Linked DNA regions of Homo sapiens. The protein of the gene in region 2 purifies or fractionates together with the protein of the main gene of each other region. This does not show direct contact. Each region holds a gene or a part of one and is shown on either strand. Other genes may lie near its edges.

Region 1 (3,184 bases), on a different chromosome or scaffold from region 2:
CCCAAAGTGCTGGGATTACAGGCGTGAGCCACCACGCCCGGCCTCCACTGATCTTTTATATGAGTGAAGTGATCATGTATTAAAATAACAAACAATGCTAAGAAAGTCCAGTTTCTGGACTACTGTGAGAACTAATTTAGCAGTCCTTGCACAATAAATTCAGCACTGTGGCAAATTTATAAACAATAAATGTTTGACATCTCCTGTGCCTTTTTTTTTTTTTTTTTTTGCAATTTTATTAAGAGTACCCAGAAAACCTTTCAAGGTTTCAGTAGATCTGTTCAATCTTGCCAGAAGCAAGTTAACACAGTAGAAGAAATTAGAGCCTTATCAGTCAAGACATAATTGCTAGAGCCTCAGGGACACCGATGCGGACACAAGTCAACAAACAGCATACAATAATGTGCCAAGATCTTCACCAGATCTGTAAGATGCACTCATAAAACTTCTTTTGAAGAACTTAAAAATATTTTTAGTAAAAAACCAGCACTACCAATTTATAAAGTGATTCTATCCAAATTGGCTTTTTATTTATTAATAATAAAGTCTACTGACACATACTGCTTGCAAATAGTATAGACACAAAAATTATAAAAATAAACCAGTAGATATTTAGGGCAGATGCAAAAATTTGCACATTAGGTCATTATAAACTAGATATATTAAGCAAAAAAAGCAAGGTGCAAACCAGCAAGTATGATATATTACCAATTGTGTTTTTAAAAGGAGAAAGACAGATACTTTTACATATGCATAGACGATATCTGGAAGAATACTTAAGAAAATGCTATCAGTGGTTGCCTAAAGAACTGGGTGGATCAGGGAGTGGGCAGGAAACTCACTTTCACTGAATATCCTTTGGTACTATTAAAAAAATTTTTTTAAATCACATTTATGTACAAATTTGTTTAAACATTTTGACTAGAGGTTATATTTAAGACTAAGCCCTTGGCCAGGCATAGTGGCTCACCCCTGATCCCAGTACTTTGGGAGGCCGAGGCAGGATCACTTGAGGTCAGGAATTCGAGACCAGCCTGGCCAACATGGTGAAACCCCATCTCTGCTAAAAATTCAAAAACTAGCCAGGCGTGGTGGCGTGTGCCTGTAGTCCCAGCTCAGGAGGCTGAGGCACAAGAATCACTTGAACCCAGGAGGTGGAGGCTGCTGTAAGCTTAGATCACGCCACTGCACTCTAGACTGGATGACAGTGCAATTCCATCTAAAAAAAAAAAAAAAAAAAAAAAGACTAAGCCCATGGACTTAACATAAAATTACTTTTTAAAAAAATGATTTAAAAAAAAAAAAAGACAAGGTCTTGCTCTGCACCCAGACTGAAGTGCAGTGGCACAATCATAGCTCACTGTAATCTTGAACCCCTGGGCTCAAGCGATCCTCCTGCCTCAGCCTCCACAGCAGCTAGGACTATAGGCATGGGCCACCATGCCCGGATGATTTTTTAAATTTTTTGTAGAGACAAGGTCTCACTATGTTGCCCAGGCTGTTCTTAAACTCCTGGGCTCCAGAGATCCTCCTGCCTTGGCCTCCCAAAGTGTTGTGATTACAGGCATAAGCCATTATGCCTGGCCAAAATTACTTAATTATATGCCACAAGAAAAATTATTTAAAAATTCCAAGGATTTTTGGAAATATTTTCATGAAAGAGGTTTACAAGATAAGAAATGAGTGAGAAATGCTGACGTAGTACGTATTTTATTGCAGTGATATTTTCAGGAAGAACTTCATTTCCAAGTGTCAAATATTTCAGGGGGTATGTGATGACTGTAAGCTGACAACAGTAGCCAAGGTGAGCCTTTTTTCTTTCCTAAGAAAAAAGTCTCGCGCAAATATTCAGGAGGTTTGAAATCATCACTTTAAGGAAAAAACTGAAATATCTTACAGTGAGTTTTAGGTCTACTTGACAGAGGAATCAAAATTAATTTACAGCCAGCCATTAATATGCTACTCACCTGCATGTTGTTCAAGAAAAGAAAAATATGTCAATATACAAGAATAATGAAATGTTTTATTTTTTGTTGTCTTGAAAACAATTACTAAAATGTAATTCAGGATTTTATTTCTCTAGCCTGGCTTCTCACTGGTATCATGAAGGTCATGGCACAGACAATAACTGTTCCAAATATATGACGTATTGTTCCTGTGCTTTCTAGGCTGGGTAGATACCCTATATACTCTGTTTTTCCCATTATCCCAACTGAATAGTATTATAATATATTCCCTCCCCTGCCCCCACCAAGTACATAGCCTCAATCCAAAAGGAGAAAGCTGGATCACTCACCTCTTCCCAATCTACACCTTTTAAGTTGTTTTAGAAACAATAAGAGATGACCTGCCCTCTCCATTACACTCGTTGGTTCTGACACACAGAATAGCAAACAAAACCAATTTACGTGATGCCCATGTCTTTATACTTCCACACTCTGGAACAAACACACTTGCAAACAATCAGCTCGGGGAGTGTTAAAAGGCCCTCAAAAAATTCAGAATATCTCTAAGTATAAAATAATTCAAAAACATCCAGTTCCAAATAGTCCCTGAGCACACTGTTCATTCCAGCAAGAAGTCTCCAGAGAGGTAATGAATGAAAGGCACATTTTCTCCAACTTGAGGACCGCTGCATAGTACTAGACGGTACCAGCCAGGCTGATCAAAAAGTTCTAATTGAGGACATCCCCCCCTTCCCAAATTTAAATCTTGTATGCTGGAAAAATAATTTAATGTCAGATGTAAACACAACACTTTCAACTAGAGGAGTGGCAGCTGGGGTACAACCCTTCCATGGGAGATTCAAGAATAAAGGAAAGCTTCAAGCCTCCTCTTCTTCCTTTTCCAAGAAATCAGTCAATGTTCCATTATCAACAGGAATTAATAAATACTCTACTCCATCAGTTCCCTGAAAGATTTAAGAATACCTGTACGTTAGTCATTCATAAGAGGTATATGAACTCTTCTATTGTAGAGGCTAAAGAAAAAATGAATTTATTTCTTGGATGTAATTTTTAAATATATAAGTATAAAAAGGCAAAAGGGCACACAGTCATATATACTTAAATATATGGAGTTATAGTTAAACATCCTTATAGTGGAAAAGACAACTAACTAGAGGGTGGGTAGGTGGGTATTTATTTTTTTCATTGTGCTTTAGATCATTCTTCACCTTCCTGCC
Region 2 (4,034 bases):
TGCAGGTTAGGAAATCAACATTTTCTTCCTTATTTAGGAAGTATCTGTCATGATGTCTTTGAATAATTTTCAATGAGTTTATTTCAGTGTGATGATCAATGAGATGGCAAGGAACTCATGTCCTTTTTACTGATTTCCTCATTTTTATAAAATGAGCGTTTTCATTCTTAAATGGCCTTCAATGTCCCATTCTAAGTAATACTTTAATACATCAAATTCCTCACCTTGCATGAATATGTGGCACATTTACCATTGTTTCTCCATCATTAGACAATCCTTCCTGGGCTTGTAACTCAGCTGCATGCCTTTCAAGGTCCTTAGTTAACACCTAAACAGGACAGACATTTACTCTGAAGTTGGAAAACAAAACATCCTCTTTATACAGAACTCTATTTTTATAGAGAATATAAAGTTTATGGACAGAAACAGAATAAAAACAGAAAACTTTAACAGCCCTTTAAATATCTAATATTTAATTATGACTACTTACTTTATAGTGGATGTTTTACATTGGATTTTGCTGTCCCTGTGCTGAAAAACTCCAGCATCCCAGTCTGCTACTTTCTGTCCCAACTAAACCTAACATTAAAAGCCCTTACATTAGTCCCCAAAACCATCACCTCTTGATACTAATTAAAAAAAAAAAAATGCATTCCTATTTCTCTATATTCACTGACCAATCAAGACACAGAAAATAAAAATGACCTTTAAAATACCTAATACTCACTCCCTTGGCATTTAACATTAAATAATATAAACACGCTGGGCGCAGTGGCTCACACCTGTTATCCCAGCACTTTGGGAGGCCAAAGTGGGTGGATCCCCTGAGGTCAGGAGTTTGAGACCAGCCCGACCAACATGGTGAAACCCCATCTCTACTAAAAATACAAAAATTAGCCAAGTGTGGCAGTGCATGCCTATAATCCCAGCTACTTGGGAGGCTGAGGCTGCAATGAGGCAAGATCACACCATTGCACTCCAGCCTGGGCAACAAGAGCAAAACTCCATTTCAAAATAAATAAATAAATAAACAACAAACAAACATTTAATACCACTTGTACACAGCAGTTTGCTGGCAACCTAAGAGGCAAAATAAGATGCATATATACAGCTGTAATTGTCATAAGGACCATAAAGATGTACAGACAAAATACCATGCAAGTTTCGAAAAGTGGTCATGAGAAAGGTTTTACAGACAGACAACTGAGCTAGGCCCAAATAATCTGTCCATGTGAAGGGAAGGGGATTCTATGTTGAATGGACAGCACAGGCAAGAGGTAGAAGAATGCCCCTCTGAATGCCCCAGCACTTTGTGTATGCCTGTCCTGAGATTTGCTATTCATTACCTTGAAGCATGTATCTGTTTGCTAGCCTAAAAAATGTTTTTGGCCGGGCAAGGTGGCTCATGCCTGTAATCCTAGCACTTTAGGAAGCCAAGGCAGGCGGATCACAAGATCAAGAGATCAAGACCATCCTGGCCAACATCGTGAAACCCCGTCTCTACTAAAACTCCAAAACTTAGCTGGGCATGGTGGTGCACCCAGCCACTCGGGAGGCTGAGGCAAGAGAATCACTTGAACCCGGGAGGCAGAGGTTGCAGTGAGCGGAGATCATGACACTGCACTCCAGCCTGGCAACAAAGTGAAACTCCATCTCAAAAAAATAAATAAAAAATAAATTTAAAAAATTTAAAAAGTTAAAAATGTTTTCATATATGTTGTATTACCTGACCCTGAAAAAAAACTCAGGCAAGCACAGTACAAACTGTTATTTACATTTGATATACAGGGACACTCAGTGGTTTGCTTCATGCCACAGAACCTAAATCTAAGGTTGCTCTTTTTTGCTCTAAGTTCATAACCGATAACACCATGATTCCTTGTTTTATCTTCCCTATGAGATTGTATAACTTCTTGAAAGCAAAGTTTAATTTCTGCACAATCTTTAGCAAGATTAAGCAAATCCAAATAAGTTGGAGGTAAATATTTCATTTAGATAAGCTGTTGTATATAGAATGAATGGTATCTTTCAGAACGGAACTGCAACCTCTCAGTTCTAGCCAACATCTTTTCGTAAAAGCTAAGTATCTCTTATAGAAAGTACAGTCACTGTAAAATCTTCCTTTAAACTTAGACAAGGTGTGCATGTGTGTGCAAACATTAAAAAAGTTTAGACAAAAGTATGCATAAGACAAATAGTTACCTGATGTATTGCCAAACCCATGCAAGCCAAGGTTTTCTCAGGTGCATCTCTTAGTTCAGTTGCTATATCTGGTATCAAGTTAGTTACTTCACCACCTTCTGTCAGTTCTTTAAAATCTACCAAAATACTTCCCTTTCTTTCTATTTCATCCTATAAAATATAAAAGTATGAAAACAATAATTGCTTTTCTGTAGTCAATTACCATTAACTGAGCATTCTATTATAGACTTTGAGAAAGCATACAATGTTTATATGTGATAATGGTAAGTATGACATAAGTATAAGCTTTGTGCCAAGCATGGTTCTGATATTTTAAATATATTAATGTATTACTGCCTCTTAACAATCCTTTGAGGTAGGTATTTATACCTCTATCTCCAAATGAAAGAAAACTGAGGCACAGAGAAGTAATTAATCAAAGTCCATACTGCAGGTAAGTGGCAGAACTGAGGTCTGAACCAAGGAAGTCTGACTCCAGTGCCTACGATCATAATCACAAGTACCTCGAATACATTGGTAAGATGGCACATGACTGGTAGCTTTGCTGTAGAGGAATCTTACCTTGTCATACAAATCAATATGCCTTGTGAAAAATTTTTCAAATGCTTGAATCTTCTCAATCAAAGGAGAGCTATCGCTGTAAACTAATCCAACAAATATGGCATTAGCACAAATAATCACACAGGTACATGCACATTTTTCATGAGACAAAAGCAGCACTATATACATGGTAGATGATTTTTTTCTAATTGCTTTGTATTTTGATTACATTCATATAAGAACTAGTATAGAATGTAAACTTAAGATTCTAAAACAAATTTAGGTTTGCATAATGTGAAATGCAGACAGAAACTCTCTCTCTCTAAAAGCCCCACTATCTGGGAAACTTTGTTTTGCATCTTTGACACCTAATAGGACATGTTAGTTCAGATAATTTAGACAATAAGCTTAAACTAAAAATTATAATAAAGCCAAAGCCAGACACATAAACTAAGCTCTTACTCTGACAGAGCTGAAGACAATCACAATCACAGTCTTTCCTGAGATCAGGAGACAGACCAACACTTGACCCTGGTGGCAAAACTGAAAAGCCTTTTTTTTTTTAACACTCTAAAGTTCTACATTTTCAAATATGTCTCTCACAGAAGAACAGTACAATAAAGTAGTTTGGAAGCACAGATGGTGAAGGCTAAGGCACCTCTTGAACTCCATCTTTAGGACTGTCCAAAGATCACTTATAGTGTTCTGAGCTATCTGCTAGGGGAGCAATGGGAGTGCTGGTGGCTAATACATCCTAAAGGAACAAAAGATCATTCATGAAACAGATTCTATTGATGGAAAAAAACGAACAGATTTCCAATAAAGAAAACATTTGTAAAGTACTCTATTCATTCACAAAATGACTACTGCATGCCTGGTATGGGGCAGGGAGGGTCCTGGACCTCAAACGTCTAGTTTTCCTAAAAAAAAAAAGTATGCGGCTGGGTGCGGTGGCTCACGTCTGGAATCCTAGCACTTTGGGAGGCCGAGGCGGGCGGATAACGAGGTCAGGAGATCAAGACCATCCTAGCTAACACGGTGAAACCCCGTCTCTACTAAAAACAGAAAAAATTAGCCGGGCGTGGTGGCGGGTGCCTGTAGTCCCAGCTACTCGGGAGGCTGAGGCAGGAGAATGGCGTGAACCTGGGAGGCAGAGCTTGCAGTGAGCCAAGATCGCGCCACTGCACTTCAGCCTGGGCAACAGAGCAAGACTCCATCTCAAAAAAAAATAAAAAGTATGCACACACACACACACACACACACACACACACACCCCTCATGAGACATAAGAA

Evidence for each region.
Region 1: the proteins of MCM8 (region 2) and ORC2 purify together in Homo sapiens (affinity purification with western blotting; one study listed by BioGRID). This does not show direct contact.

Annotation. Positions count from the first base shown.
Region 1 is NC_000002.12:200,908,477-200,911,660, forward strand, and holds the end of ORC2 (origin recognition complex subunit 2), read right to left. Parts: intron 2,912-3,184; coding exon 2,825-2,911; 3' UTR 501-2,824; downstream 1-500. UniProt on the Homo sapiens protein: Component of the origin recognition complex (ORC) that binds origins of replication. DNA-binding is ATP-dependent. The specific DNA sequences that define origins of replication have not been identified yet.
Region 2 is NC_000020.11:5,953,420-5,957,453, reverse strand, and holds part of MCM8 (DNA helicase MCM8), read right to left. Parts: intron 2,847-4,034; coding exon 2,764-2,846; intron 2,353-2,763; coding exon 2,203-2,352; intron 329-2,202; coding exon 225-328; intron 1-224. UniProt on the Homo sapiens protein: Component of the MCM8-MCM9 complex, a complex involved in the repair of double-stranded DNA breaks (DBSs) and DNA interstrand cross-links (ICLs) by homologous recombination (HR).